2 separate regions of the Homo sapiens genome follow, and region 2 is linked to region 1. Evidence: fine-mapped expression QTL. Tissue or cell type: whole blood. Region 1 holds a variant in brackets; the other region holds the start of a gene. All regions are shown on one strand. Distances are between the middles of the regions.

The links. PIP is the estimated chance that this variant, and not a neighbour inherited with it, causes the effect.
Region 2: it holds the start of ITPKB-IT1, and the variant in region 1 is fine-mapped to the expression of ITPKB-IT1 in whole blood (TOPMed, PIP above 0.99).

What each region holds. Positions count from the first base shown.
Region 1 is chr1:226,706,251-226,709,013 of GRCh38, forward strand. The region is part of intron 2 of ITPKB (inositol-trisphosphate 3-kinase B); the gene reads right to left. Among named protein-coding and RNA genes, the nearest start is that of ITPKB, 32 kb to the right of the region's middle. RefSeq lists a silencer at 2,369-2,544. The variant C/T (reference allele first, on the strand shown) is at 1,462.
Region 2 is chr1:226,673,572-226,676,334 of GRCh38, forward strand. It overlaps ITPKB-IT1 (ITPKB intronic transcript 1), which reads right to left and starts at 1,497. Exons shown (of 2, transcript NR_103784.1): 1 at 1,346-1,497. The region is part of intron 2 of ITPKB (inositol-trisphosphate 3-kinase B); the gene reads right to left. RefSeq lists a silencer at 2,479-2,628.

The DNA of each region.
Region 1 (2,763 bases):
TAATAAATGATAAAACAATAAATAAAAATACTTGATAGTGAAACCCATTGGGCTGGACAGTGGTTTCCTCCAAGTTAAGTACAAGAGACTCCCTTTTATCCATTTCCATACCTAGGGTTCTTGACAGAAAACTTTCTAGAATGTGGGTTTTCTGAGCTGAGAGGGACTTCAGAGATCAACAAGTCTTTGGGTTCCAAACCTGAAGACTGTGGGCTAGGATCTAGACAGGCTTCTTGTTATCAATGTCCTGAAAGGGCAACATGGCCTGTGAAATGTGCCTCTCTCTGGAAAAAGGGTGTGTGGCTTTCTACCACTTTCCAAAATGGCATAAGACCCAAAAGGGGTTAAAAAACACTGATTTGGTCCAGCTCTTGGATTTCACAGATAAGACCCAGAAAACTCAGTTGAGTGCTCCAGGTGACAGGGCAAATTATATGTCACCTTCTAAAGCTGGTTGGGGCCTGTGGGAGGAGGAGGAGGATACCACTCGAGCTAACAGGTCTTTTCCATTTCTAATTACAAGGATTCCATGAAGTTTCCAGCCGCCAGTCTGTCTGGCTTTCTGGGCCTGGGTGTGTCAGTCGCCACTCTGTTGCCGAGGTGCACAGATGGCCAGGGGACTGGGGTGGCTGGATATGGCCAGCAGCCAGCTGGCTAGCATCCAGGCATCAGCTCTCAGCCAAATTTCTTCCTGGGGGCTCAAAAAGGGGTTTCCAAAAAGTCCAGTCCACAGAATGAGGCACAGTTCAATCCTCTAGGGACTCATCACTAAGGGTGGTTGCATAAGAAAAATTATGAAAAACCATCACCCTCCAGTACCATATGGGCTCTATTTCCAGGCCAGCGCAATTAAGAACAATTTCACAAGGAAATAAAGGGACCTAGTAGAATAATTCAGAATAAAAACATTATTGCCAAATAAAGTACAATCTTTTTTTATTTTTTATTTATTTATTTATTTTTGAGATGGAGTTTAGCTCTTTCGCCCAGGCTGGAGTGCAGTGGTGCTATCTCGGCTCACCGCAACCTCCGCCTCTCAGGTTCAAGCAATTCTCCTGCCTCAGCCTCCCAAGTAGCTGGGATTACAGGTGCCCACCACTACACCTGGCTAATTTTTGTATTTTTTAGTAGAGACGGGGTTTCACCATGTTGGCCAGGCTGGTCTCAATCTCTTGACCTCAGGTGATCCGCCCGCCTTGGCCTCCTAAAGTGCTGGGATTACAGATGTGAGCCACTGCGCCTGGCCAATAAAGTAAAATTTTAAGAGAAAAACATGGAATGGAAGAATATTTGTACATTAAGTAACTGACAGCTTACTATATAAAATGCCATCAACATGTTCGGGCAGTGGGGGCTCAATGGGGATAAATAGGCAGTGTACACATGAGTAACTCAAGGCCATCATCACAAGGAAACATGTAGAGTCCCTCTTGAAAACTAAAGAATTACAAATTACAACTT[C/T]AAGGGACAGTAAGACAATATCAAACTACAAACAAAATCCAATGGTCGTAGGGAAACTGCAGCACTTAGACTTTACAGATGACCCCGTAATTGGCTCAGTCTTTCCAGAGAGTAGTGTAGGAAGATGAAATATGCTATACATCATTCTTGGTATTGGACGTTGCCCCAGCAGTACCACTGAGGGGAACACTTCCCAAGAAGTCACTAAAGGGAGAAGAAAAGAGGTCATTTTAACAAAAATACTCATGGCTGCATATGGCAATAACTGCAACAAAATATGGAAACTACCCACCAAAGGTAGGAGTAAGATGATGTAAATGATGTAGTAGCTCAAAGTTCACACTCAGGAATCAGACCACACAGTTGATTACTGTATGAAATGACGTTAAAACAATAAAAGATAAAACTAGTACAATCAGATTGCAATTATGTAAAACAAAATTAGGCAATTGATCAAAGACCAAATTGGATTTACAACGATTGTAAATACCTAGAATGAGTTAAATCATTCATTTAGTCGTGGTTATCATTATTTAGTCATGGTTATCATTAGCTTCTTTCTCTGTAATGTTTAAGTTTTTGTTAAAAACCAAAAAGAACAAAAAATAAATCAAACCTGCCTCAAACCGTTGGTAGAATAACAGCTCAAGGGACCTAACTGAGACCCACCCAAATGTATGCTCTTTGGAGCTACTCCCAGAGTCAATACTAATTGTTATAAGCCACTCCCATGCCAGAGGCTGACTTAGGCACGAGTAACTCGAGACATTCTGGTCAATGAGACACAGGGGATATCTGCTGGGAGCCTTCTGAAAAAGATGTCTCGGCCTTAGACACCATGAAGAGCCATCCCCTTTTTCCTCCAAGGGATATTATCATTTCCACACAGGACACGAGGCCCTGTAGCACCCATCTGGCAACCACGAGGAAAGATGAGTCAACACGTTGTGAGACAGGGCAGAGAGATGCAGAGGACACAGGTCTTTCAGTAACTCTGCTATGCTGATGAATTAGCCAATGCTAGAACTGCCTGTGCTGGGACTTACTGATCAAGGTGAAAGAATGTGTTTTCTTTATTGTTCAACTCTACTGGGTTGCAGTTTTCTGATACTTGCAGCTGACAGCATCTTAACTCGTGAGGCAGCAAGCCTGAGCAGCTTTCTGATGCAGGCCTGGCAGGCCATGCTGCCCTAGGCCAGTATTCTGCCAGGCCCCTCACTGTATTCCATTCTGGGGGAGAGCCTAAGGGAGACGGAAGAAGACACTGGTGAACACGAGTTACACCAGGCCTCAGAACAACTC
Region 2 (2,763 bases), 33 kb before region 1:
ATAAAGGGATCCTTCTAAATTCTCTAGATGTATGGAAATCTTTGACAGGTCTTCTGAAGCCTAGAGTCATCGTATAAACATAGATAAATAGTGTAGATATTGCATAGCTATAGATTGATATGTACATATACCATATACATTAGATATATGCTATATATTTACACTTCTTGGCCTTTCGGCTTTATTATCTATCTCCACAAAGTAGGACAAGACAAGCTTGTTTCCCATTTAAGTTTTTCTATCTGTACTGTTTTGCAAATCCACCAGAGAGTTGCAGGACACTCCTGCTACAGAAAGATTTCTGCCAGGCAGGCTCAGAGACCTGCTCTGTTACTGTTCTATTTAATAACACAAACACACAAATGGGGGCCTTTCTTCCCCATGACTTTCATGGCATGGCTGGGGGCAGAGCTGGGAGGTTTTCACGGCCCATATATCCTCAAACTGCTCCATTTCCCCCCGATCTCAGTTGCCACCCCACTAACTCCGGGGTGATCAGCTCCATACCACAATCATCTCCTGGTGATAGAGTTCCATGGATTTTAAAAGCTGTAAGAAAAACTGAGACAGATTCAGAAGAGATTCTAGTAACCCCAAACCAGCAATTACAAATATTTTTTAAGTATTTATATATACACATTTTTTTTTGAGACAGAGTCTCACTGTTGCCCAGGCTGGAGGGCAGTGGCACCATCTCGGCTCACTGCAACCTCCAACTCCCAGGTTCAAACCAATCTCCTGCCTCAGCCTCCGAGTAGCTGGGATTACAGGCACCTGCCACCACACTTGGCTGATTTTTGTAGTTTTAGTAGAGATGGGGTTTCACCATCTTGGCCAGGCTAGTTTTGAACTCCTGACCTCGTGATCCACCCACCTCAGCCTCCCATAGTGCTGGAATTACAGGCGTGAGCCACTGTGCCTGGCCTAATTTTTGTATTTTTAGTTAGAGACGGGGTTTCACTATGTTGGCCAGGCTGGTCTCGAACTTCTGACCTCAGGTGATCTGCCCGCCTTGGCCTCCCAAAGTGCTGGGATTAAAGGAGTGAGCCACCACACCCAGCCACAAGTTTTAGATACTTAAAATACTTTTAAGTATCTAAAATTAGCACCTCTCTTTAAACCTTTTACTCACCCTTTCCTGACCCTTTCCTTGTATCCCCCATTCCCTTTCGATTTCTTCACCATCCCTATTTGCCTCCTTTTCCTCACTATCTACCCACCAAGTCCTGCTCTGCTCCCATCCCACTTAAGATTTTCGTGTCTATTCTGTATCACCCTTAATGATCCACTGAGGCTGTGAGCTTCCTGTTTACCCACAAGCGTTCAGCGGATCCAGCCATCCTACCAAGGGTTAAAGATGCTGTAGTCCTACTGTGCTGCCTCCGACCCAGTTCCTTCCAAAACAAAGCAGGATGACAAGGTGACTCCACGAGAACTGCGTTTGACCTCTGTGTGGGTTTTCTGTTTCCAAGGCCACAGCAGGGTACTCTGAAAACTCTAAACCAGAAGGAAAGGAGACCTAGCCTTCAGAACTCTGTGTGTATGTGCTTACAGGCAAAAAAAAAAAAAAAAAAAAAAAAAGGAACCAATGAGGTTGTCAGAAGGGGATACTCTGCTGTAACTGGTGTTTACCACGACCCACCGGGTGCTGAGGAGGAAGTGGTTGCTATAACCCCAAGGGGGAAACGCTCGCTTGAAACAGGAAAATAGAACTCTTACAACTTTCCATTAGCAGCGTTCAAGAAGCCGGCCACACTGGGAAACACTTGCACAAGCACTCCCCAGAGTCCTGAGACGAGTGTCAAGACAGTCCAATCACGAAGCACAGATCAGGACACAGATACAGGTCCATGTTTTTTCCAGAACGTCTCAGCACTGGAAAAACTCTCATGATCACTTCCCTTACCTCCAGCAGGCTGAACTTGCAAGGAGCTGTGGGGAGGAGGAAGGAAGGGGAAAATGGCAGGATGACATATTGGAAAGAACGCTGGGCCCAGTGAGGGTCAGAAGACCTGGGCTTTAGTCCCAGTTCTGCGATTTACTAGTGGTGGAACTTTGGGCAAATTACCCAACCTTCCTGCTTCTCGATTTCTACTTCCTCTATAAAACAGGGATATTGTTTACTGCTCTGCTCACATCCTTGGGCTGCTGTGAGAATCCTATGGAATCCTTCATAGGATGAAACTCGTATGTGCTACGCAAATGCTTGTTATCAATGTAAGATTCGAGTCTGCATAAAGCCTTCTTGAGTCCCAGCCTCTTGCTCCTCAAACGCATCCTCTCGGCTACACTTCCACCTGTGCACTTCCTCAACCCACCTTACTTGTAATTCTGCCCACACTTCTGTAGAATTTCTGTAGAAGATCCCATAGTCTGGTCAGAGGAGTATAAGCAAGTCTAAATAACCAAAGTGGGGGGATCTCAACCAAATCATTTGACTCTGGGCTCTGTGCTCCCACATTCTCTCCTCTCCAGAGGTGAAGACTTCATCCTCAATGGCTAATTTGCCTGCTTGGAGGCTCAGATTGGCCCGTGTTCTGAGTCATATTTTCCATTTAGTAAAATGAACATCTGGCTGCTGTATGATGCCTTTTGTGTACCATCACCTAAGCCACAATTACCTGCAAGGTAATTCATACCACTACAGCACGGTGCAAAAACAGGGTTGGTTTGGGATGGTGAAAGTCAGCCATCTTAGTGTCAATCTTGCATGCAAATTCTAATGAAGAAAAGCCACTACCAGCAGGTCCACACACACTCACA